Linked DNA regions of Homo sapiens: all the other regions are linked to region 5. Evidence: fine-mapped expression QTL. A gene starts in region 5. Each other region holds a variant in brackets. All regions are shown on one strand. Distances are from middle to middle. Region 1 overlaps KANK1 (KN motif and ankyrin repeat domains 1). Region 2 overlaps KANK1 (KN motif and ankyrin repeat domains 1). Region 3 has its middle 3.3 kb from the start of DOCK8-AS2. Region 4 holds the start of LOC107987042 (phosphatidylinositol 4,5-bisphosphate 5-phosphatase A-like). Region 5 holds the start of KANK1 (KN motif and ankyrin repeat domains 1).

The links.
Region 1: its variant is fine-mapped to the expression of KANK1 in whole blood (TOPMed, PIP 0.94).
Region 2: its variant is fine-mapped to the expression of KANK1 in thyroid (GTEx, PIP 0.97).
Region 3: its variant is fine-mapped to the expression of KANK1 in whole blood (TOPMed, PIP 0.97).
Region 4: its variant is fine-mapped to the expression of KANK1 in fibroblasts (GTEx, PIP 0.96).

Annotation. Positions count from the first base shown.
Region 1 is chr9:606,938-612,040 of GRCh38, forward strand. The region is part of intron 1 of KANK1 (KN motif and ankyrin repeat domains 1); the gene reads left to right. Among named protein-coding and RNA genes, the nearest start is that of KANK1-AS1, 76 kb to the right of the region's middle. The variant T/C (reference allele first, on the strand shown) is at 3,091.
Region 2 is chr9:743,875-748,977 of GRCh38, forward strand. It overlaps KANK1 (KN motif and ankyrin repeat domains 1), which reads left to right. Exons shown (of 12, transcript NM_015158.5): 11 at 617-715; 12 at 1,299-2,229. The coding sequence ends at 1,361. LOC124902109 (a long non-coding RNA gene) reads right to left here. Exons shown (of 4, transcript XR_007061394.1): 4 at 3,375-3,595. Among named protein-coding and RNA genes, the nearest start is that of KANK1-AS1, 61 kb to the left of the region's middle. The variant ACTT/A (reference allele first, on the strand shown) is at 3,047.
Region 3 is chr9:470,917-476,007 of GRCh38, forward strand. It overlaps a transcript of KANK1 not described here. Among named protein-coding and RNA genes, the nearest start is that of DOCK8-AS2, 3.3 kb to the left of the region's middle. The variant C/G (reference allele first, on the strand shown) is at 1,936.
Region 4 is chr9:709,940-715,042 of GRCh38, forward strand. KANK1 (KN motif and ankyrin repeat domains 1) reads left to right here. Exons shown (of 12, transcript NM_015158.5): 3 at 865-3,525. It overlaps LOC107987042 (phosphatidylinositol 4,5-bisphosphate 5-phosphatase A-like), which reads right to left and starts at 703. Exons shown (of 1, transcript XM_017015393.3): 1 at 1-703. The variant G/C (reference allele first, on the strand shown) is at 2,198.
Region 5 is chr9:502,389-507,491 of GRCh38, forward strand. It overlaps KANK1 (KN motif and ankyrin repeat domains 1), which reads left to right and starts at 2,307. Exons shown (of 12, transcript NM_015158.5): 1 at 2,307-2,366. It overlaps LOC105375947 (translation initiation factor IF-2-like), which reads right to left and starts at 3,165. Exons shown (of 4, transcript XM_047424276.1): 1 at 2,872-3,165; 2 at 2,551-2,781; 3 at 1,309-2,433. The coding sequence starts at 3,165. The coding sequence ends at 1,612. RefSeq lists a silencer at 1,943-2,432.

The DNA.
Region 1 (5,103 bases), 100 kb after region 5:
CTAAGAGGAAACTAGTGAAGTGTAGTTGCCCGTTCACATTTTTATTTTTTTAAGTATTTTATGCCCACGGAAAACTGTGGGACTGGGACTTGAATTCTAATTTTATGTTTTCTTGGGTTATTCTTTAAAACAGGGTCTTAGACTAGTAATTAATACAGTGTCACTCTCTTTCACCTTCCTCAATTCCTTTGCATGCTTGTTAGGTCATTCAGAGTGGCACTAAGGTAAACTTTGGCATATCAAAATCCACTTGAAAGCAGATGGTTAGCAAGGGGCAGTGACTTATGCCTGTAATCCCAGCATTTTGGGAGGCCAAGGCGGGTGGATCACTTGAGGTCAGAAGTTCAAGACCAGCCTGGCCAATATGGTGAGAACCCGTCTCTACTATAAATACAAAAATTAGCTGGTGTGGCGACGCACACCTGTAGTCCCAGCTATTTGGGACGGTGAGGCAGGAGAATCGCTTGAATCCGGGAAGCAGAGGTTGCAGTGAGCCAAGATCGTGCCATTGCACTCCAGCCTGGGCGTTACAGCAAGACTCCATCTCAAAAAAAAAAAAAAAAAAAAAAAGGAGATGGCTATGCTTGTTAAACACTGTTTCAGTTGAGTACCTCTCCTGTGGGCTTGTTGGTTCTTGTGCAGATTCCTGCTCCTGCCCAAGTCCAGGACTAGCTGCACATACCTGCACATGTGCCTCACCCAGTCCAGGACGGCTAGCCTTGTTCTCTTCACCCAGCCCAGCAGCAGAGTGCTAGGAAACTTTGCTGGCAGGGCTGTAAGAACCTCTGTAGTTTCTTCCCATTTCCTTGTTCTCCTAACTTACTATGCTGGGAGGAAATAATATGGTGTGGTAACGATTTTAGGCAAAGAAAAAAAGCGCCGAAATGGATGTGGTGGTAAAATTAGGCCAATCTTTTGGAAGCACCTTAGCAACCTCCTTTCATGTTCTTGGTACCTTTACCTGGTTGTATTGTAATGTTCATTTTTCCTTGTGAACATCTCTCTGTGTGTGTGTATGTGTATAATTTATCTAGTACCATGGAATCTTTGAAGGAAAGACTAAAAAACTTTCAGAATTATTATTATTATTATTATTATTTTTTTTTTTTTTGAGACGGAGTCTCGCTCTGTCGCCCAGGCCGGACTGCGGACTGCAGTGGCGCAATCTCGGCTCACTGCAAGCTCCGCTTCCCGGGTTCACGCCATTCTCCTGCCTCAGCCTCCCGAGTAGCTGGGACTACAGGCGCCCGCCACCGCGCCCGGCTAATTTTTTGTATTTTTAGTAGAGACGGGGTTTCACCTTGTTAGCCAGGATGGTCTCGATCTCCTGACCTCATGATCCACCCGCCTCGGCCTCCCAAAGTGCTGGGATTACAGGCGTGAAAACTTTCAGAATTATAACAATAAGTTTCATTTGTTGTATAGCACATTCTACGTGACCATAGACCAACTCTCCTTTATCAATATTTGTGTATTCTCTTAAAGAGCTAAAAGAAATCATTTTTTAAAAATTCTTTATATCTAATGTTGGCCAATGTTACCTATAAGAAAAGATCATTGTTTCAGAGCATGTGAGATGAAGATGATTGACTTTAGGGCATTTACATGTGGGAACTGTCAAGGTAGTTGAAGTTTACAAGAGTGGGCTCTCTCTCTAGTCACTTCGGGAGGAATGCCATCATCAGGACATCATCACGACTGACTGATTTGGTCAGTCTGTCTTTCATCAAGTCAGGGAGATAAACAGAATTGAAAAATTGTTCACAAAGGTTGTCAGTTATTAGGGTGTGGCTGACGAACCACACCTGAAGAGCTACCTAGATGAAGGCAACTCACAGAGTTACTTAACAACCTCCACCCCAGTTGATGGTCCAGAGTGTTTCCAAGGGAGGTGAACTAAGCCAATGTTGAGACTGAGTGGGATAAGGCCATGGTGACATGCATAATAGATGCATTCATACACATTGCTTCAATAGAGCATTTTCTTGGATGGAAGCATGGGAAATAACACATGGGCGTATACTCACGCTTGTTGTTAGCTTTCGGGGTCACTGCTGATATCCTTCCTTGTTCAGTTACCCTTTGGGACTTGAACTCCTGCAAGATCGTTGAAAATCTTCATGTTCTCAGAACTCAAAGGGAAGAAGACTTGACCCCTAACCCTTCAGAAAGCTGGCTGAAAAAAAAAAAGATTGTCCATAAATAGCAATTGGCTTTACCTAGTATTATTTACCACATTATTAAACTGCTAATTGCAGTGGTGTTTTTATAATGCCACTATATTATTTTAATTTAGAAAACATTTTATAAGTTTATTGTTTGTAAATTAAATAGATTTGCTTAACAGTTCTTTGGGAATTCCTTAAACTTTATTGCTAGCTACAAGTCCTTTTTAAATAGAATCAATAGGCTGGGCATCGTGGCTCACGCCTGTAATCCCAGCACTTTGGGAGGCCGAGGAGGGCGGATCACCTGAGGTCAGGAGTTCAAAACCAGCCTGGCCAACATGGTGAAACCCCATCTCTACTAAAAATACAAAAAATTAGCTGGGTGTGGTGGCGTGCACCCTTAGTCCCGGCTACTCAAAGGGCTGAGACAGGAGAATCATTTGAACCCCAGGAGGTGGAGGTTGCAATGAGCTGAGATCGCTCCACTGTACTCCAGCCTGGGTGACAAGAGTGAGACGCTGTCCCAAAAAATAAATAAATAAAATAAAATAATGAATAGACTCAATAGACATTGATCCTGCTAACATATTTTGCCTTTTAATCTATTGGTACTTCTTTTATTCCCTTTAAAGTTAATTCTAAATAAAGGAGAAGTATCTTAATTTGGTTAATATCATAGTTTGGAACTATGGCAAAATTATTTTTTCTCAGGCTACTTTCTAGTAAGTATTTTATATTTATTCACTAAAGAAAATTTTTAAAATTTCAAATTACGTAGAATTGTACCACTCTCACATAGAAATGTTTTTATCTTTCTTATACATATATTTATGTGGTTTGATTTTTATTTGGAATGCTTGTTTTACTTGAGGTGTCAGGACTTTCCACTCATTTATGAAGCCTTTACAATTATAATGATAAA[T/C]ACTGTTACATTAATGTACAATAATTTATAAAACTGACTTTCTCATGTTTAAAATTTAGATCGTGTCTAATTCTTTGCTACTTTAAGTATCATTGCAGTGAAATCTTCAGGCCATAATAAGTTACTTCCTTGCGATAAGTTCACAGGAATAACTAGATTAAAGGTATGAATACATTTTAATTTGGTTGAACACTTACGTTTATCAAAAACTCTTTACAAAAGTAACACAATTATCCTAATAAATTAGAATATTAGAAGTATATAAGATGAAAAAACATTCTCACTGAACTTCAGTCCTGCTCTCCAAAGTGAACCATGATGAGACCTTAAGCAAATGTTATATATAATGAGAAAAGATAGTCCTGAAGAATTGAGTGATATGGAAGTGATAATGGTGTACTATATGGGTGAAAAAATAAAGTACTGGTTTAGATACATGATTTAAGAAATAGAATCCTGACAGTTCCCTCTGTGGATAAGCCATAGAGGTGTCCAGTGTTGGTTTAATATAGCAGCTGGTTTGACCGAGTACCCTCTGCTGCGTCAGGTAATGTTAAATGATGTCCATGCCCCCTTGACTCTGATCAAGACATGGCTACAACCTGCAGTTTCCAGCTTTCCTGGGTTTAAGGGCCATTGAAGAATCCTTGTAGATAAGAGAAGAATTGTACATTCCAGGAACTGGAGGCATAGCTAGCCTTGGAAAGCTCGGAGGGTTAGTTGAGACAGCTTTAGACTTGCACATCTGTGACCTGAGTATCTTTGAGACTTGATTTCATCTTCTAGACCCAGAGGCAGAGATCATGTTTGTGGTTATTTTTCTGGGAACTGAGACTGGGCAAAGGGAAAGAGGCCAGTACGCAAGAGTGCTGTTTATAAATGGTTAACATCGTCCCCAGTCCCGTAGAAGAAGAATGAAATGGTATTCTCCTGTTTGGTGGTTTTATTTGATTGTTTTTGAATTCTTTGTCTCTGACAGAAGGCATCTTCTGTATCCTTTATGTTGTCACTCACTTTATTACTCTGGCATTATTATAATTAGGTTACCTTATCACTCCACCTGCCAGCCCTATCTCCATCCCCAAGACCTGAAGGGACGGTTGGCTTGACATGTGAGGAGGTTTTTTGGCCTTCAGAGATGTCGCTGTCAGCCCCCTGAGTTCCATTTGTTAGTATTGGGTCCAGCCCACAGCTTTCTACTAAAAACAACAGGCAAACTAAAGAATCTTTTAGTAAGTCACAGACAATTGTCACTGAACCAAGAGCCCAGCCCACGGGGCCAGTTCCTCACCGACTCTATGCCTTAATTTCCAATGTGTAAGCTTGGATGACTACACTTATCTCCAGGATTCAGTGTAGGACATAGAAAAAAGTACAGGACTCAAGTAATGATTGAACTTGGAATAAAAACCTTAAGGCCCATGTCCTCTGTCTCTCATGCTTTTCAGATGTGTCTTAGTGCCTGCTCCTTGCACAGAAGCTGAATCCAAACAAGCCACTGAGGAAGTTACATTTCACTTCACTTCTTAATAACATAGGTATGTCGATCCCATTAGATAGGAGTGTGTCTAAAATTCAGAACCTTTGACACTAATTATCTGACTGTCAAATGACAGTGTCATTCTATTTTGCAGGCATTTTTGATAGTTTATCTTCCCAGTAATATTTTTGTAATCTTCATCACCTTGACCATCTAACTCTTTTTTTTGGAGACAAAGTCTTTCTCTGTTGCCCAGGCTGGAGTGCAGCGGTGCAGTCTCAGCTCACTGCAACCTCCGCCTCCCGGGTTCAACCGATTTTCCTGCCTCAGCCTCCTGAGTAGCTGGGATTACAGGCGCATGCCACCACACCCGGCTAATTTTTTGTATGTTTAGTAGAGATGGGGTTTCACCGTGTTAGCCAGGATGGTCTCGATCTCCTGACCTTGTGATCCGCCAGTCTCGGCCTCCCAGGGTGCTGGGATTACAGGCGTGAGCCACCGCGCCCGGCCGACCATCTAACTCTTATGTGCCC
Region 2 (5,103 bases), 240 kb after region 5:
AGACAAGTTGTGTTGTTCTTTCCCTTGATACTCCTTTATATCCATTTAAATCCCTGAAATTTAATGGAAATCAAGCAGTTAAGTGAAGCTTTTTTCACCCATATGTAGTGTTTCCCCTCTTATTTCCAGAAGTTGGATCTGTGCAACCCACTGGGATTGCGTGCTTACACACAGATGTTACTTGTAGCCTTAAACCGAGGTGGTTTAGGGTTTTAGGATCACAGTGCCCTCTCTAAGAGGAAAGGTAAAAGATCTTTGGCAAATTGCAGAGTCTCTAAACACACACTACTGCTGCTTGCCTGGTCATTCATAATTAATTAGAAGAAAAAAAAACTTTCTATCCCCATCTTCTGCTTCCCCCTCCTGGTGGGCAGAATGGTTGAGTAAGATAATCCTCTTAACTGGGACCTCTGGAGGGTGGAGGCTTGCCTCATTCATCTTCACATCCTCAGGCCTTCACCCTTAGAGGTCCCAAAAAAGTTTCCCAGAAGACCGAACGAGTAGGGATATTTGGGGAACCTTGCCAATTATTGGAGGGTGTTTTGTTCTGTTACCTTTCGGTTGTCTGGAGGTTTGAGAAACCCAACATGGCTTGTTCTTTCCATCTTATCTTAAGGATGGCAGCACTGCGCTCTCAATCGCCCTGGAAGCAGGACACAAGGACATCGCTGTTCTTCTGTATGCCCATGTCAACTTTGCAAAAGCCCAGTCTCCGGTCAGTGTTGTGCATTTGGCATTTGTAAATAGGCTGAAATCCACCAGACTGGTGGACCCCCTTCCTCCAGGAATTGACGGGAGACAGATTTTATGTTGATTCAGAAAATGGAAGTTTTAGTCTGGAGCTTAAGAGTTCATCCTTTCCGCCTCCACCCCGCAAAAAGCAGGAGAACTAATGTTTTAGCAGAGGCTGGACCTTGCTTGTCCTTGCAAGACATATGCTCACAGCTTCCCATAGAGGTTTTGATTCTGTGCAGAATTATCCAGATAGCAGCCCCTGAGCCCATGGGGATATTTCGCCATGGTTCTGGCATTGTTCCTGAAGCAGATGGCAGGCAGCCTGTAGTCCACAGTTCACTCTGAGTGGGAAGGTGACTTCCCAGGACAGCCGGACATAGCACTGCTGAGCCCAGCTGGCCTTGGAGCTGTGGACACCTGTTCCCTGTTCTCAGCCAGAGCTCTCCTGGCTCGGGCTCACAGCTGCTTGTTGCCTGTGGTGGGCCAAGATCCTATGTCACAGGGTACACATCTGCCTGAGGTCACTTATTAACCCCCAGTTTTTTTCCTTTCCTGGTCTCTAGGGCACCCCTAGGCTTGGAAGGAAGACGTCTCCTGGCCCCACCCACCGAGGTTCATTTGATTGATTGTATGCAAATAGCCCTTTATTTACATGCCACTATTAAGCTGCTAATTGTTCCTGTTGGGGTGACAGATACTGAATGTATACGTATTGTGCCTGAGCTCACCAGCAAACAGAAGCATCAAGCCCAGGGGTAAAGGCTGAAGCTTTCACAGTGCAGAGACTGCTAGCCTGGGCACACACACCTCCTTTCTGGCCGTCTTCTGTGTAGGGCACACTTTAACCCAGTCTCTGTTGCTGTTGAGTCTCTGCTCCGTTTTGTACAGTCACAGGGAATTCTGATCTGAAGGGGCACCTTCTGTTCACTCCCACAAAGTGGTGTCTGGTTCTCACTGAGACGTTTTAAGATTTTTCCACAAATATTTATATGTACTAAATGTGGAACCATTAGAAAGTTCTTCCAAAATCTCATTCCAGCATAGTTTTGGATTTTTCTTTTGTCTTATTTTAAAATAAGGAAGTCGAGATGACTTTGATCATTGGTAACTTGGGCCTGGGCCAGACAAAGTATAAAACTTACAAAAGAATATTCTCATTTGGTCTTAACTAGGTAGATGTAATATATGACTTTTTATAAAAAGGGTATCTATATGAACTTGACACAGTATTTTCAGCTTTTGTATTCCATACTAAAGCCATGAAGAACTACACGTAACATCATCATTTGTATTAATTGCACAACTCCAATGCTAAAGGTTGGATTGTGTTAGAGGAATCGGCTCTGTATTTGCCTCTAGAGAAACACAGTGTTCTCTTTGTATTTATGGATTCCTTTTTACCGTGTCACATTTACTTTGGTCCTCTATGTATTTAAATGTTTGAAGTGCCTTAGACTCTTGCCATATTTTCAAAATAAAATTCCATTAAGCTCTTTTCCTTGTCCCTGTTTCATCTCTGATAGCTGTCCGCCCCGAGCCGATTGACTTACGGCAGTGGCAGCACACGCTGATGGATTGAGCTGAGCAGGGAGGGTGAGTGCGCCAGTTGGCTCCGACAGGGAGACAGCATCTTCCGAGGGCGCTTGTCCACTTGCACAGCTTGGCTCCTGACTCAGATTGCAAGTCGGGAGGCTGAAGTTTGAGGCCTCCTTAGACAAAGCGCTCTTCCGATGGGTAGCCGGAGATGCTTCTTCTCAGGTGCAGAAGCACTAGTCCTTGACTCTGAGTACAACTGCTGGGTGACTAGGTGATACGTGTAGTGACAAGAAAGGAGAGATGAAGCCGGACACTTTTTTTTTTTTTTTTTTTTTGAGAATGGAGTCTCACTCTGTTGCCCAGGCTGGAGTGCAGTAGCATGATCTTGGCTCACTGCAAGCTCCACTTCCTGGGTTCACGCCATTCTCCTGCCTCAACCTCCCAAGTAGCTGGGACTACAGGCGCCCGCCACCACGCCCGGCTAATTTTTTGTATTTTTAGTAGAGACAGGGTTTCATCGTGTTGGCCAGAATGGTCTCGATCTCCTGACCTCATGATCAGCCCACCTCGGCCTCCTAAAGTGCTGAGATTAAAAGCATGAGCCACTGCATCTGGCCTCAAATTCTTTTTAAATAGTAAAGTAAGTTGGGACCATCTCATTAAATGAAGCAGCATGGCAGCCAGAATTCAAACCAGGTGTTCTGGCACAATCGCTGGTGGTGAGTTTTGGCCAAGGCCATCTATGAGAGCCAAGTGCACTGGAGAAATATCAGAG[ACTT/A]CTTCTTTCCCTCCCTCCCTCCCCCGCTTTTAAAAATTAAACATTATTGAGCTCAGGAAAGAGGCCAGAGAATAGACTTTTCCCATAGGTGTTTCATTATGAGGTCTGTTTCAGAGTCAAGATTTGAACCTTTCAGAGGAAAACAATTTGGGGGGCTGTGAGAGCCATGCTGGCAGTGCAGGCAAACCTGGGCAGCAACAGACCAGCTCTCCCAGGACCACAAGGATGACTTTCCTCTGCATGAACTGTGAAAGTGAGGTCACAGCCACCTGGAGGCACATCCCTCTCGGGACATAACCTAAACCTACTAGCTGATACATGCTGAATTTCAGATCATGTAGCTCTTCAAGCCCAAGTTCCTACAGATCCAAAATGGCACAATAAAAGCAGGAGAGAGAGAGAGAGAGAGAGAGTGTGTGTGTGTGTAGAGAGAGAGAGAGAGGTAGAGCCATGCGTGGTCTGCCCCTTATGGGCATAACCTACCTTTTGAGCAAATAAGGTAGTACCTCTGGTGGTTCCCGGGCCTGGGAATTTTCTTTGTTCCATCTGAGAAAGGAAAGGCATGAATGTAAATGAATGAGCAAATGAATCCCCCTGTCTGCATGCTGCCCTTCTGATTTCTCATGCTAGATTTTGAAATAGAAAATGAGTGCTTGTTTTATCAGATACAAGATATGTATCTGACCTCTAAGTAATGAATGCTAGATGGTACCTTGTTTGCTCTAATCACACTAGGCATTTAGAATGCCTTTTATCTTGGGATCCTGGTATACTATATAAACAAGCCTGATTATGCCCATTGGTACAGCTGCAGTTTATTGAGGCACAAACTCCATAAAAGGGATTTGTGACAGGAGGCTTGGGCAAGGTTCCCAAGTAAGACCAGCATGGGGTTGGCAACTCCTGATCTTATTTTCCAGCTTAAGAGAAGTCTAGGTGGGTGTGGTGGCTCACACCCATTATCTTAGCACTTTGGGAGGCTCAGTCAGGCAGATCACTTGAGTCCAGGAGTTCGAGACAAGCCTGGGCAATATAGCAAGATCTCATCTCTACAAAAGAAAAATTAGCTGGGCGTGGTGGCATGTACTGTAGTGCCAGCTACTTAGGGGTTGAGATGGGAGAATCACCTTGGCCCAGGAAGTTGAGGCTACAGTAAGCCATGATTGTGCCACTGCACTCCAGCCTGGGTAATAGAGTGAGAACCTGTCTCGGAAAAAAAAAAAAAAAAAAAAAAGGAAGGTTTAAATCTTTAAGTGATGAAAAGACAGCTTCCCAGAAACCTTGCCTTGGAAGTTGAACCACGGACAGTTGGGAGCCACCCCAAGACAACAGGAGTGGAACAGTGGGACTTTTGAGAGTTTAACCTTAAGAAAGTAAAACTAAGCCAGGTGTGGTGGTTCACACCTGTAATCTCAGCTACTGGGACAAAGGCTGAGGTGGGAGGATTGCTTGAATCCAGGAGTTTGAGGCCAGCCTGGCCAATGTAGTGAGACCCCCATCTCTTTAAAAAACAAACAAACAAAGGAAAAAAAAACTGGCAACTTGTCGTGACACTATTACGACTAAACTGACAACTAAATGTCTCACCAAGGGGGAGGAAGGGTGCTTCTGGAGACGTTTACTAGGAACACTTCATCTAGCTCTGGTATCCAAAATAAATGAAGCTCTGAGCGCTTTCCTTGTAAGTTAATACTTGGGAGAACAACATTATCCCTGATTTTTGTACTACTGAAGTACTGCCGATATCTGACAATCCTTGCAGATGGAATCACATAAGAAAACTATTTCTCCTTCAAAGGAAATAATGACCAAACATAACCTTTCTTTAAATTCTGCTAGATCTTTTGTGGGGGAACTTGCTACAAGTAGAATTACATTTTTATGATTTTGTATAAGCCTTCCCTTCACGAGACACTTAAGAATTTCCAGAGGGAGCAGGTAGAAAATGCAAATTTCAGTCGGACACGGTGGCTCAGGCCCATAATCCCAGCACTTTGGGAGGCCGAGGCAGGCAGATCACCTGAGCTCAGGAATTTGAGATCAGCCTGGGCAAC
Region 3 (5,091 bases), 31 kb before region 5:
CTCAGGACATTCTTATCCAAGTAGGTGCTAGCCACCTGGGTAGTCAAGACAGGGCCCTGCACAGTTAATGTGAATCTTGTCATAATGCCAGGGTTATTGTTTTGCAAGGAGCCGGTCATAGAACACTAGATTGCATTGTCACTGGGAAATAAGCTCATTCTATTAGCTTGTTTCTCAGCTAGCTTATGTAGAAATTTGCCACAGTTGTTACTGCTGGGCACCTGCCCTGGATCTGATCATCAATTATATCATCTCTTCCATCTGATGGACTGCACCTCACCCCTTGCTTTTTCAGAGCTGGCGAAGCTGGGCCAAGGAAAGCGATAGTGCCAGCTGAGTGGAATGTGCAGGAAGGGACCGAGGAGGGGCACTATGTACTGGAGAAAAGAGATGGGGTCTCCAGGACAGGGGTAAGGACACTAGACTGAGGGCACAAAGGAAGGAAACCACAAGGAAGTAGAGTAGGGAAGTGGGGAGCATGCTGAGGAGAGAGGTCAAGAGATGGTGACCGCTCTCTGCATGCCCCAAGGAGATGGTGATGACACTCCCAAGTCCATGTGGGACTCCCTCCTTATGCGGGCCTCAGTCTGTCATCTTCCTTGGAGCAGGACCAAAGTAAATAAGATAAAGTCACAATTTCTCATCCTTCTTCACTCAACTTTTCTTTGAGGTGAGTTGGCATTTTTGTAAAAGAATGCATTCTCTGCCAGATGCGGTGGCTCACCCCTGCAATCCCAGGGTTCTGGGAGGCCAAAGTGGGAGGCTTGATTGAGGCCAGGGGTTCGAAACCTAGGCAACATAGCAAGACCTCCATCTCTGTAAAAGAAATTAGCCAGGCATGGTGGTGCATACTTGTAGTCCTAGCTACTTCGGAGGCTGAGGCGAGAGAATCGTTTGCACTTAGGCATTGGAGATTACAGTGAGTTAAGCGTTCTCCTGTACTGCCATGGTAGGTGGGTGTTGCTAGCCACATGAGGATATGTGAGCCGGTCACCAGGGACTGCGGCTGACTCCCCGAGCACAAGGACAGTAAGAATAAACCTCCGATTATTCCCCTGCCCCCAACCCCAACTTCAATTAAAGAGATATACCCTTATGTGACTGACAAAAAAGAGCCCTGCTCTCCCAGAGTCACATCCCCATACGCCAAAACACTCTTACATATAATTATTGGTGCTTCATAAATGGCTGATAAAAAAACTTTTCTATCAGGGAATACACCCTACCTTATTCACAGCCTCTTATAGAGAGCTGGCCTGCCCACAGTCTCTGTAAGGGGCAGTTGTCTCTTCTGAGTGACCAGTTTCCCTGACCTCCCCTCAAGCCATGACTGACCAAGGAAGTCAATGTCACCACTGAGAAGCAAGGCGTAGCCTCAGACTCTGAGTTTCTAACTCTTTCCACTTTCCTAAGATGGGGTTATGCCTCATTTCTGAGAGATTTCCAACCCTCTGCCATATATTCCTCTTTTTGTGAGGTCACTTGGGGAGGTGTCTGCTTCTTAGCACCAGAAGAGCTCTCTCAGGACCCAGTTGCTGACCCAGTTGCTGCAAATGCTGAAAGTAGGAAATGGAGGTCAAGTGTAGGCCATAAAGATTTTCCCACTCCTCCTCTTGAATCAGGCATGGCCTTGTGAATTACTTTGGCCCATAGAATGCGGCAAAGTGATACTGTACAAGTTCTAGCCTTGGTCTTAAGCCTGCCAGCTTTTGCTTTCACTCCCTTGGAGCCCTGAGCTAGTATAGAAAGAGATCCAGCTGCAAGGACTGGTTACACAATTTGCAGGGATTAGTGTAAAAGGAAATGCAGGTTTCCTTGTTTTAAAATTATTCCGAATTTTAAGGCGGTGACAACAGAGCCCTATACCAAGCAGAGGCTTGATCCGAGCTGGTGCAGGCATGACAGCCAGGCTTCCTGATACATGAGTGATGCTAT[C/G]TTGGATTTCTGGCCCCAATTCAGCCTCCTAATGGTCAGCATGAGAGCATGAACTACCCTAGGTGAGACCAGTAGAAGAACCCAGCTCAGATTACAAAACTATGAGCAAACAAACGGTTGTTATTCAAGTAAAGCTCACTAAAGCTCTTCATGACAAACGGGTATAGTCATGGGGGCCGCTAAGGCCTGGGTTGAGATTTTATATAGCAATAGGTAACTGAAGCATGAAGAATAAGAGTTTGCAGTGAGTGGTCACCCACCATATTCCAGGCCCTGTGTTGGTGCATTGCATGTGCCAGCTCACCTGATCCTCACAACACCTTTCATAATTCCTTTCTACAGGAGAGAATACAGCAGTTCCAAGGACAAGGGATTCGTACCACTGCTCCTCACTCAGTAAATAGCAGAGACAGAATTTGAACGTGAGTCTGACTGATTCCAAAACCCATGTAATATCCCTGCATTGAAACAGAGGAAAATCCAAGGAAAGTGCACACAGCTTGGAGACTATTGGATAGGGGTCTGATTCAGTCTTTCCTAAATTTCCTCATAAATTTGCAGTTGAAGTATCAGGCAGAGAAATGATAACCAGGTGAAAGACCCCTAATGGGACATCATGACATCACAGCTCTGTGATCATCAACCATAATCCCTAGAGGGTCACCTAGAGTTATCCTACAATGAGGCTTACTTGGGTTTTCTGATAGGTATAATACTGAGAAAATTTGCTATGGTTAGCTATGGGTATTCACCACTTATTTTAGTGTATATCATCCCCCAACAAACCACAGGCACCTGTGATCATCTGGGTATGTGTTCAGGAACTATCTTGCACCCAGAAAGAACAAGAATTTTTTTTTTTTTTTTGAGACAGAGTCTCTCTCTGTCACCAGGGTGGAATGCAGTGGCACAATCTCAGCTCACTGCAACCTCTGCCTCCATGGTTCAAGTGATTCTCCTGCCTCAGCCTCCTGAGTAGCTGGGACTGCAGGCATGTGCCACCACACCTAGCTAATTTTTGTATTTTTAGTAGAGACAGGGTTTCACCATGTTGGCCAGGATGGTCTCGATCTCTTGACCTTGTGATCTGCCCACCTCGGCCTCCCAAAGTTCTGGGATTATAGGTGTGAGCCAGTGTGCCAGCCAAGAATTAATTTCAACATTAGACTCAGCCAGAGTTAATGAAGAAGCTTTCCCCACATGATGGCTCCTCACAAGAAATACTATCTATTTATAATATTCATTGGCTTTACTTGTCTTTACCAAGCCTTCCTGAGTGTCATCAGTGGGTGAGTGAGTGTATGGATAGGTACCTGCCTATCTGTCTGCCCATGGTGATGAACACATCACTGTAGGTCAGCAATGACATTGAGTCTAAATGCTGTTGGCCATAAGGAAAATAGTGACATTCCCTGGCTCAGAGGAAATGCTGGTAGGAAAGCCATATGGACTAGTATTTATAAGTACAAGCTCAGGGGTCAAAGATGCTGAAGTTCAATGCCTTGTCCTGTCTCTTACTAATTAGTGATATTGGACATATTGATTAATTGCATAAGTATGTTTCTCACTTATCTATAAAATGAGATGTATGAGGGCTAAATGAAATGATGCATGTGAAAAACTGAACAAGGTGCCAGGCCTAGGACAAGGGCTCAATAAATGTCAGCGATTATTTTATTTGATGAACAAAAGAAGGCAAATGTTCTTTCTTTGATGCCCCCTATCTTTTCCCTGTGTCGTTTCTCTAAAAAAGTATATGTGTGTAATTTCTATGCCTTCCCTCCACTCTCCCATTATCTACCACTTCATCATCCTCTCACTACCCATGGCCACTTTCCCTCATTATCTTTTCTATATTTCTTCCCTCCTCCCCTGAAATGGGGTTGAGCAGGGGGAGATCAGAGGATGAGAAAAGGCAGGGAGACATTGGTGGCAGGGTGACAATGGAGCACCACAAGCTGTCTAGGCCATCTAGACTTTCCCTGAGGACACTTCAGTATCTCTGAGAATACCATTTTCTCAGGACTCCTCACACTGGGAGAAACCTTAGCAATCATCTGATGGTGTACTTGTTACAGTAGATAGGCAGACATGTGCAGTGCAGGAGAGGGCCCCCCACCCTGACCAGGAATGTCAGGTGACCATCAGGTGATGGTCACATGGTTGTTACACCGTCTCTCTCAAATAATAACTGGTTGCAGCCAGCACCAGGGAAAGGCAGTCTCCAAATAGATAGGAAAAACCTGAAAGTGACAATCAGCAGCTTCACAATAAGATCTCAGGAATTGGGCAGGTGGGCTCAAGCATGTGCACTAAGAGGCAAAGTGGCGGAGTTTAATTGGTAAATGACCTTCCTGTAGGAATGCTACGCTGGTAAGGGAAGAAAGCCTCAAGAAAGCATCTGTACCATTCCAGCAAATACACTGTGCATGCTCCCCTCCCAAATGCTAGCAGGCCACTGCACATATGGACAGCCCACCCCAAGGGAAGAATTGGGAGAAGTAACCCAAGACCCCGAAAGTATGCCAACCTGTAAGACCGCAAGTCAAAGGTCAAACTGTGCACTTGATCTCACAAGGTGCCCACTCGGCCCTCTTCCAAATATACTCTACTTCCTTTCATTCCTGCTCTGAAGCTTTTTAATAAATTTTCACTCCTGCTTGAGGACTAAGCTCTGATCTTTTCTTATCTTCCAAATTCCTATCTAGGGGGTCTGGGGAGTTATGCCCTACAAACCAAAAATTCTCATCAGATGGGTTTTATTTAACCCTATATATTGTGACTTTTTAGTCTGACTCTGGCATAATATTACATGACAAAATCAAAATATTTTATCCCATAACATGTCTCTTTGGCATATTTTGAAATGGCCCTGCAAAGCCATCCTTTGTAGGGGAAAATTTGCATCTGTAAAGAATCTCTGTTAACATAGCTAGATATTTTTCTTCCAGGCGCTCCCATCTGAAGAGATTAAGAGTCTAGCACCTTTTTAAAATTATTTATTTATTTATTTATTTTTGAAACAGAGTCTCACTCTGTTGCCCAGGCTGGAGTGTAGCGTCGCCATCTCAGCTCACTGCAACCTCTGCCTCCTGGGTTCAAGCCATTCTCCTACCTCAGCCTCCCGAGTAGCTGGGATTACAGGTGCCTGCCACC
Region 4 (5,103 bases), 210 kb after region 5:
TTTTAAAAATATTTAGTAAGGACTTACTATGTGCTTGTCTCTTAATCATTATCTCTGAGTACTGATGGACATAAAGATGGAAAAAGATGGAAATAGTAGACATTTTAGACTACAAAAGTGGGGAAAGAGGGGAGTGAGGGTTGAAAAATTACCTATTGAGTACGGTGTGCACTATTTGGGTGATGTGTACACTAGAAGCTCAAAGCTCATCATTACACAATATATCCTTGTAACAAGCCTGCACATGTACTCCCTGAATCTAACATACAGTTTTAAAAAATAATACAATCATTATCTCATTACATTGTTTTTAAGCCTGTGAGTTAAATATTTGCATCTCCATTTTTACTCAGGGAGAAACTGAAGTTAAGAGAGGTTTATTAACTTGCTTACCCAAGCCGGGCGCAGTGGCTCACGCCTGTAATCCCAGCACTTTGGGAGGCCAGGTTGGGTGGATCACCTAAGGTCAGGAGTTCGAGACCAGCCTGGCCAACATGGTGAAACCCTGTCTCTACTAAAAGTGTAAAAATTAGCCAGGCGTGGTGGTGCACCCCTGTAATCCCAGCAACTCAGGAGGCTGAGGTAGGAGAATTGCTTGATCCCAGGAGACGGAGGCTGCAGTGAACCGAGATCATGCCATTGCAGCTCCAGCCTGGGTGACAGAATGACCTGTCTCAAAAAAAAAAAAAACAAAAAAAAACAAAAAAAACTTGCTTACCCAGCTGTTGTAGATCCAGGTTCAAAACATAGGTGTGTCAACTCTTAAAATCATACCAGCTTGCTGTACTGCAACAAACACAAATATTAGTTTTTACCATTAGGTGTATTGCATGTCATTATAATATTCTTTTCTCCCTCTTCTAGGAAAAGCAGGTGATATTCTCAGTGGAGACCAGGACAAGGAACAGAAAGACCCTTACTTTGTGGAGACCCCCTATGGTTATCAACTAGACTTAGATTTCCTCAAATATGTGGATGACATACAGAAGGGAAATACCATCAAAAGACTGAACATCCAGAAGAGGCGGAAGCCGTCCGTGCCATGCCCAGAACCCAGGACCACATCTGGTCAGCAAGGTATATGGACTTCCACTGAATCCCTCTCATCCTCCAACAGTGATGACAACAAGCAGTGCCCCAACTTCCTCATAGCCAGAAGTCAAGTTACATCAACTCCAATCTCAAAGCCACCTCCCCCTCTGGAGACCTCACTCCCTTTTCTTACCATCCCAGAAAATCGACAGCTGCCACCTCCCTCACCACAACTCCCAAAGCATAACCTTCATGTCACCAAGACACTGATGGAGACCCGGAGAAGACTGGAACAGGAGAGAGCCACCATGCAGATGACACCGGGTGAGTTCAGAAGGCCCAGGCTGGCCAGTTTTGGAGGCATGGGCACCACAAGCTCCCTCCCTTCTTTTGTGGGTTCTGGAAACCACAATCCTGCCAAGCACCAGCTTCAGAATGGATACCAAGGTAATGGGGATTATGGTAGCTATGCCCCAGCTGCTCCCACCACTTCCTCCATGGGGAGCTCCATCCGCCACAGCCCCCTGAGCTCAGGGATCTCCACCCCAGTGACCAACGTGAGCCCCATGCACCTGCAGCACATCCGCGAGCAGATGGCCATTGCTCTGAAACGCCTGAAGGAGCTGGAGGAGCAGGTGCGAACCATCCCTGTGCTCCAGGTAAAGATCTCTGTCTTGCAAGAAGAGAAAAGGCAGTTGGTCTCACAGCTGAAAAACCAAAGGGCTGCATCCCAGATCAATGTCTGTGGTGTGAGGAAGCGGTCCTATAGTGCGGGGAACGCCTCCCAGCTGGAACAGCTCTCCCGGGCCCGAAGAAGTGGCGGGGAATTATACATTGACTATGAGGAGGAAGAAATGGAGACCGTAGAACAGAGCACGCAGAGGATAAAGGAGTTCCGGCAACTTACAGCAGACATGCAAGCCCTGGAGCAGAAGATCCAGGACAGCAGCTGTGAGGCCTCCTCAGAGCTCAGGGAGAATGGAGAGTGCCGGTCTGTGGCTGTGGGTGCCGAGGAGAACATGAACGACATCGTCGTGTACCACAGAGGCTCCAGGTCCTGTAAGGATGCAGCTGTAGGGACACTTGTTGAGATGAGAAATTGTGGGGTCAGCGTGACAGAGGCCATGCTTGGAGTGATGACTGAAGCTGACAAAGAAATTGAGCT[G/C]CAACAGCAGACCATAGAATCCTTGAAGGAAAAGATCTATCGCCTAGAAGTACAGCTTAGAGAAACCACCCATGACCGGGAGATGACTAAACTGAAACAAGAGCTGCAGGCTGCTGGATCGAGGAAAAAGGTTGACAAAGCCACGATGGCCCAGCCGCTTGTTTTCAGTAAGGTGGTGGAGGCAGTGGTGCAGACCAGAGACCAAATGGTCGGCAGTCACATGGACCTGGTGGACACGTGTGTTGGGACCTCCGTGGAAACAAACAGTGTAGGCATCTCCTGCCAGCCTGAATGTAAGAATAAAGTCGTAGGGCCTGAGCTGCCTATGAATTGGTGGATTGTTAAGGAGAGGGTGGAAATGCATGACCGATGTGCTGGGAGGTCTGTGGAAATGTGTGACAAGAGTGTGAGTGTGGAAGTCAGCGTCTGCGAAACAGGCAGCAACACAGAGGAGTCTGTGAACGACCTCACACTCCTCAAGACAAACTTGAATCTCAAAGAAGTGCGGTCTATCGGTTGTGGAGATTGTTCTGTTGACGTGACCGTCTGCTCTCCAAAGGAGTGCGCCTCCCGGGGCGTGAACACTGAGGCTGTTAGCCAGGTGGAAGCTGCCGTCATGGCAGTGCCTCGTACTGCAGACCAGGACACTAGCACAGATTTGGAACAGGTGCACCAGTTCACCAACACCGAGACGGCCACCCTCATAGAGTCCTGCACCAACACTTGTCTAAGCACTTTGGACAAGCAGACCAGCACCCAGACTGTGGAGACGCGGACAGTAGCTGTAGGAGAAGGCCGTGTCAAGGACATCAACTCCTCCACCAAGACGCGGTCCATTGGTGTTGGAACGTTGCTTTCTGGCCATTCTGGGTTTGACAGGCCATCAGCTGTGAAGACCAAAGAGTCAGGTGTGGGGCAGATAAATATTAACGACAACTATCTGGTTGGTCTCAAAATGAGGACTATAGCTTGTGGGCCACCACAGTTGACTGTGGGGCTGACAGCCAGCAGAAGGAGCGTGGGGGTTGGGGATGACCCTGTAGGGGAATCTCTGGAGAACCCCCAGCCTCAAGCTCCACTTGGAATGATGACTGGCCTGGATCACTACATTGAGCGTATCCAGAAGCTGCTGGCAGAACAGCAGACACTGCTGGCTGAGAACTACAGTGAACTGGCAGAAGCTTTCGGGGAACCTCACTCACAGATGGGCTCCCTCAACTCTCAGCTCATCAGCACCCTGTCGTCTATCAACTCTGTCATGAAATCTGCAAGCACTGAAGAGCTGAGGAACCCTGACTTCCAGAAAACCAGTCTGGGTAAAATCACAGGTAGGTGGTACCCTGAGGACCTGGGAATGAGGAAGGATGGGGGAAAATGTCTTTCCAGAAGCTAAGGATTATTTTTTAACTGCTGGAACCATTTTTGGAGGAGAAATGGAGAAAGTTTTAGAGTGGTAATCTGTAGAATGAAAACTAAGAATCAAAATCCATAAGCACCTCTGCTGATGCTTATTATCTGGTAGCCTCACTGGCCTCTGGCTGAGGACTAACGCTGGAAGAAAAGTAAACTGGTGTTGGCTGGCCTAGAGGTTGTCTTCTGGGGCTGCTAGTTTGGTAAGATGCTTTATTCTTTGTCTTTCAGTTATTTACTTGCTCATTATTTATAGAACTGCCTTTAAAAAATCCTACCCTGTTTGTACCCACTATTACCAGTATATTAGCAATTGAAATACTGGCATAAAATGTTTTCAGTTAAAACGTTTATGAGAGGAGAGACTCCATTAATTCATTCTTTAATTCAGCAAATAATTATTGAATTTGAGCCAGGTGCAATGGTACACATCCGTAGTCCCAGCTACTCTAGAGGCTGAGGCGGGAGGATTGCTAGAGCCCAGAAATTTGAGACCAGCCTGGGCAACATAGTAAGACCTCCATTTCTAAAAAAATATGAAGTAAAAATCATTATTACTTGGATTCCTACTCTGTCTCAAGCTATAGGCTGTGAAGATAGTGTGAACAAAACAGAACAGAGCCCCTGTCCCTGCGGTGCTTACATTCTAGGTGGGGTGCAGGATATAGACAGTAGACCTATAACATGTCAGGAGGCGATAAATACTGTGAAGAAATTAACTCCGGTTATGGGAACAGCGAGTGGTAGTGGTCAGGGTGAGGGCTGTTTGAGATGAGGTGGTCAAACTTGGAGAGAAGGGAGTCTTTTCCCACTCATTTTTTTTTTTTTTTTTTGAGACAGAGTCGCTCTGTCACCCAGGCTGGAGGGTGGTGGTGCCATCTCGGCTCACTGCAACCTCTGCCTCTCAGGTACAAGCGATTCTTGTGTCTCAACCTCCTGAGTAGCTGGGACTACAGGTGCCCACCACTATGCCCAGCCACTTTTGTATTTTAGTAGAGATAGGGTTTCACCACATTGGTCAGGCTGATCTTGAACTCCTGACCTCAGGTGATCTACCCACCTCGGCCTCCCAAAGTGCTGGGATTACAGACATGAGCCACCACACCTGGCCCGATAGGCGCTTACATTTTTGTCTGTCTTATTCTTTCTCGTATTCATTGGGATTCCTGCTCACTCTTCCTTCTTGAAATTGAAGCTAATAATCAGAAAGCCACCCTGGATGATTTTATGGCTTACAGTAATTCCCTGTGAGCCTTACCAACCTGATTTTGCTTGTGACCATGTGCACTGCCTCTCACAGTGTATAACATCATCCTCAGCTTAGGACCACACTGCCTGGCTTCCGTTTCTGGCTCTCCAATTCTCATGAATCAGTGTGACCTGGGAAAGAGTGTGCATTAGATTAATTTTACATGAAAATGTGTGATACAGACTTAAGCCATCCACAGAAATTCCAGTCTTTCTATTAGTGTCTGATGGGGCAATGATTAAAATAG
Region 5 (5,103 bases):
ACTAAAAATTCAGAATCTGCCATACTTTTGATTGATTCGTTTTGCTTACTCTTGAGGGCCTATCAATGTTTACTGACTAAATGCAAAGAGGGAGAAATAAAGGAGAGGTGAAGGCTGGGAATTCTGGGGATGGAGAGCACTTTTTTTTTTTTTTTCTTAGAGTCGTGCTCTGTCGCCCAGGCCAAAGTGCAGTGGCATGATCTCGGCTCACTGCAACCTCAGCTTCCCGGGTTCAAGGATTCTCCTGCCTCAGCCTCCCGAGTAGCTGGGATTACAGGTGCACGTCACCACGCCCAGCGAATTTTTTTGTATTTTTTAGTAGACATGGGGTTTCACCATGTTGGCCAGGCCGGTGTTGAACTCCTGGCCTCAAGTGATCCACCCATCTCGGCCTCACAAAGTGCTGGGATTATAGGTGTGAGCCAGTGCACCCGGTCGAGGGCACTATTTATTTATTTATTTTTGAGACAGGGTCACACTCTGTAGCCTGGACTAGAATGCAGTGGCTCAATCTCTGCTCACTGCCGCCTCGACCTCCAGGGCTCAGGCGATCCTCCTACCTTAGCCTCCAGAGTAGCTGGGACTACAGGCGCGCGCCATCGCGCCCAGCTGATTTTTTTTTTTTTTTTTTTTTTTTTTTGGTGAAAACAGAATTTCACTGTATTGCCCAGAACTCCTGGGGTCAACTGATCTACCTGTCTCGGCCTCCCAAAGTGTGAGGATTATAGGCCTGAGCCACTGCGCCTGGCCGACGAGCACTTTTAAAATGCAGGAGTCTTCCTGCCTCTGATATCTCATCCCTTATCACCATGCAAACAATTCTCCTTTTCATAGAAGAGTAGACATTTGGGGCGGGGTGGTGGTGGTGGGGGATTTTAGAAAATATCTACTGCATCCAAATGCCCTACTCTACAGACGAAAAAGCAAGGCCCAGGAGGAGGAAAGAGTTTGCTTACTGCCACCCAGTGAGCTGGCAAAGGCGCTGAGATTCAAAATGAGCTTTCCTGCCTTCACATATCTTCCGGCTGCCCTTTGCCTATTCCCTAAACAGTCAGGAGCCATCAAGTTCAGGAATTTGCAGGTGTGCTTCGCTGTGAACTGTGGAAAAGCAGCGTCTTCTCCCCAGAGGCAAGCATGTCGCCTTGTGAAGTTTGATGGCTCTTCACTTGCACACTCACAAAAAAGACTGAGCGTGTGTAACGCCCTGCTGGATGTGTGCGGTGCTAGAGAGCTTGGGGGTGAGGGGAGGACTCTCTCCCTTAAGAAAATCAGTTGACTGCAGAGCTAACATTGTTTTTTGAGTAATACCTGGTTTTTATAAAGTCGTCCCTTCAGTTCCCAAGCTCCTCTTCTGTTTGTTCAAGCCACCTTCAATTTGAAAAAGACTGAAGTCACAGCTTCTCAATCCCTACTAATTTCTCATGGACCTACTGGATTGCTCCAAATCGAGTATTTGGGACTGAACTAGGAAGCCAGTTCAATCCTGAGCCCCCGAGGCAGGCGTTGGGTCTTCTGTGGAGTCCCCAGAGACCTGCAACCTTCTGAACACGCATCCTCCCCTTTCCGCCGAGGACTCTGTCCTGCAGCCGAGCCAGGGCGAATGCACGGAGGTCACAAGGGAGGTGCCCTTGGAGGCGGGAGGTTTCTGGCCGCCGGGGCGACCGTGCTGACGAGGCACCTGCAGGAAACAGAGCTCTGCACGCTCCGGTCCCCCTCACCCGGGGAGGGAGAGGAGGTACAGAGGCGCTGGGGGAGGACGTCGAGCAGGCCAGCCTCGTTGCCAGAACCCCCGCCCCAGCCGGAGATGGGAGCACCGCACCGTCTCACGGGGGCTGGATTTCTTCTCCCCTTGCGGGTGTGTGTGCGAGGATGGACGTGGTAAATACGGGTTGGCAGAAGGAGCGAACCGCGGTGGAGGAAGTTCTTCTGCTTAGTTCTCGCCGCGGCGAGGCCCGCGGGCCAGGCGCGGCGACGAAGGTGCACGAAGGTGCCCCGCGGGCCTGGTGGAGTTGCAGCGGCGCGCAGGCGCACTGAGGGCCGCCCGCGGCCGGCTCCGCGGTACAAAGAGCGCCCCCGCGGGGAGCCGGGCGTCCTCTGGGCGGAGGGAGCAGCCGGGGCTTCGCCGGCCCGCGCCGTTCTTCTCACGCGCCGCTCCGGGGCGCAGCCACAGCTGTCGCCCACCGCGGGTGAGAGGCTTGCTGGTCCGCCCCGGCTTCCCCGCCCCGGCGGCGGCCGTGCGGTTCGGGCTTTAATTCTGGCGCTTGCCAGCCGGGGCCGACTCCGCCCCCTGCGCCCCGCCCTTCCCCGAGCTCCGGGTCCGCGGCGGAGCGAGCGAGCGGCCGGCAGGTTGGGAGGAGCGGCCGAAGGTGAGTGACGCGGCGGGGCCGTGCCGCGCCCCGTGCCGCGGCGAGGTTGTCCCGGAGCGCGAGGCCCCTACCCCTGCCTCGGGCTGGCCCCGCGCGGAGCCGACTTGGCGCGCGCCGGGGTTGCGCGGCGGCCGTGGCGGTGGCGGAGGGCAGCCCCCGCGGGCTCCCGCTCGTGCGGGTGAACCCGGCGGCCTCGGGGCGGTCCTGGGGGGGGGTCCGAGAGGTGGCGTCGGCCCCGCGGCCGTCGGAGTTTGGCGCGCTCTGCAGCGGCGGCGCTCGGCCGGTCTGGAGGAGGGAGAGGCGCGCCGGGCACGGAGCAGCGAGAAAGTTCGGGCCGGGCCGGCCGGCGGGAGGGTGCGGGCGCCTGGCTACCCCGGCCCGGCGCTCTGTCCCTCGGATGCCTCTGGGCCCTTCCCTAGCCCGGGGCGGAACGGGGGACCCTCTCTGAAGCGGCTCTCCGTGGAGTTGGATGTTGCCCTTCGCGGGAGGGAGTGGCGGTCAAGACCCCTTTATCCTCGGCCCCAGAGGGGCAGGTGGCCTCGGGTCGCCCTCCGCCAACTCCGAGGTGGCTTCGGCCGGGGCTGGAGGGCGGGGAGGCGGGGGAGGGGCGTGGGCGCTGCGGCCTCTGGGGCGGCCCAACCCGGCGCGGGCAGCGTGGGTTTCCGAGGTCCCGCGGTTCCAGGTCGAGGGAAGGTGTAGGGGCCCTGAAGCGGGCTGGTCCCCGAATGTTGCGTTTTCTGTGCCGCTTTGGGCAACACGCAGTGGCGCTCGCGGCAGCCACGGCTCCTTGACCGTTCATCTCCTTCACCCGGGTCCCGTGGAACTTTCAGAGGCAACTGTTCTTGGTGGCTCTTGCGGGTCAGCACGAGCCGTGCTGCACGAGCGTGACCTAGTGAAGGCCTTGGGCGAGTTGGCGTTAACAATTTATGGCGTCCGCCAGCGCTCGCTTTCCGCACGTGGCCTCTGCGGAGGGTCAGCCCATCTTATTAAATAGTGGATTCTATTAGACCCTGATACCCGAGGCTAATAAGGAAGCTTAATCATCCAGATGTGTAATCGTGCAGTTCCTTTCCTCACCGTCATTGCCCCCCACCTCTGGAGCTGAATGGAAATGAGGGTCTGTTTGCTTATATTGAATTCCTGAGTTTATTCAAGTTCATTTTTAGGTGGCGTTAACAGCTAAGTAGCTGTTCATCTGCCAGTTTCTCCTTTCATCCAACTTTCTCTACTAAAATGTTGAGCACGTTTTATTTAAAAAAAATTGAAGTGTAATAAACATATAAATTTACTCTTCTAAGGTCAAAATTCAGTGGTTTTTAATATATCCGTAAAGTTATGAAATCATCACTACCATCTGATTCCATTTCGTTGCCCCCAAAAAGAACCCCTATACCGATTAGCAGTCATTCTTCCATCTCCCAGCCCTTCTCCCTCATTTTAAGGCAGCTACTTAGGAAGTTTTTCTAAGATAGAGACTGAGTGAGAAAACTGAGAGGTGATTAACTTTGATCCTTTTTCTGTTACTAGGTTTGGGGAAAGGTGCTGCTGAAGCAATGGAAGAAAAATTAAGTATTGGCTGTCCTATGGGGAGGTTAAAATGAATAAGGATGGAAGAGAAGCTGCCAGTAGAGGAATAATTGCCTCCTGTAGAGACCCACAAGTTGGGAATACATTTTATCCCCTTAGGGCACAGGGATGCTTTCTGGGCTCTAGACTTGCCTAGTCCATAAATCACTCTAGTCGAGGTTCTGCCTCAGCGAAAGTGAGTTCTGGGTGTGTGTGTGTGTGTGTGTGCGTGTGCGTGCGCGCTCGGCAGGGAATGTTAGAAGGAAAAAAGACTAGGCTTAAAAGTAATTTTTTAAAATATCCAAACTGGCCCCAAAGAAAGAAACCAAAAAACCACAGGCAAATGGCCACTGGAATTGATACATTCAAGACTAGTTTCATTTCATGAGTATCAGTTCACAAATAGTTCTGAGTTAATGTGTGCATACATTAACTTTTTATCCCAAGTGGGAGGAGGAGGATGGAAAAGGATCTAGTTGGGGGCAGTGCAAGGAACTGGGAAGAGGAATGGGATAATGGCCGAAAGGGGCAGTGCTTGTGGGAGCTGAGGACTGTTGAGATGGAATAACTATAGGGTGAGCAGATTCTGAAAGAGCAGAGTGGGTCTGTGAAAAGTTGGACACTTCACTCGGGCTTTTTGTTGGATAATGTGTGCATGTTTTAAAAATCATTTTTAGTAAGGAGAGTTGAAGCTATCCAAATTATGCAACATCCACTACACTTCTCACTCACCCTTCAATAAGAAAAGTCAACTTGTTTTCAAGTGTTTCGGGAAGTTTTAGGCCTGTTGCATGGGTGACAGCTTATGCCATCTTTTTTTTTTTTTTTTGGTAATTTAGAACATTGACATAGCGAGACTCCGTCTCTACAAAAAAAATAAAAAATAACCGGATATGGTGGCACATGCACCTGTAGTCCCAGCTACTTGGGAGGCTGAGGCAGGAGGATTGCTTTAGCCCAGGAGTTTGAGGCTGCAGTGAACTATGATCATGCCACTGCACTCCAGCCTAGATGACCGAGCAATATCCTCTCTCAAAACAAGATGAGCTGTACCATAGGTATACATATCCCACACCCCCAGCCCTGCCGACGGAGTTTTGCTCTTGTCAGCCAGGCTACAGTGCAATGTCACAGTATCAGCTCACTGCAACCTCCGCCTCCCAGGTTTAAG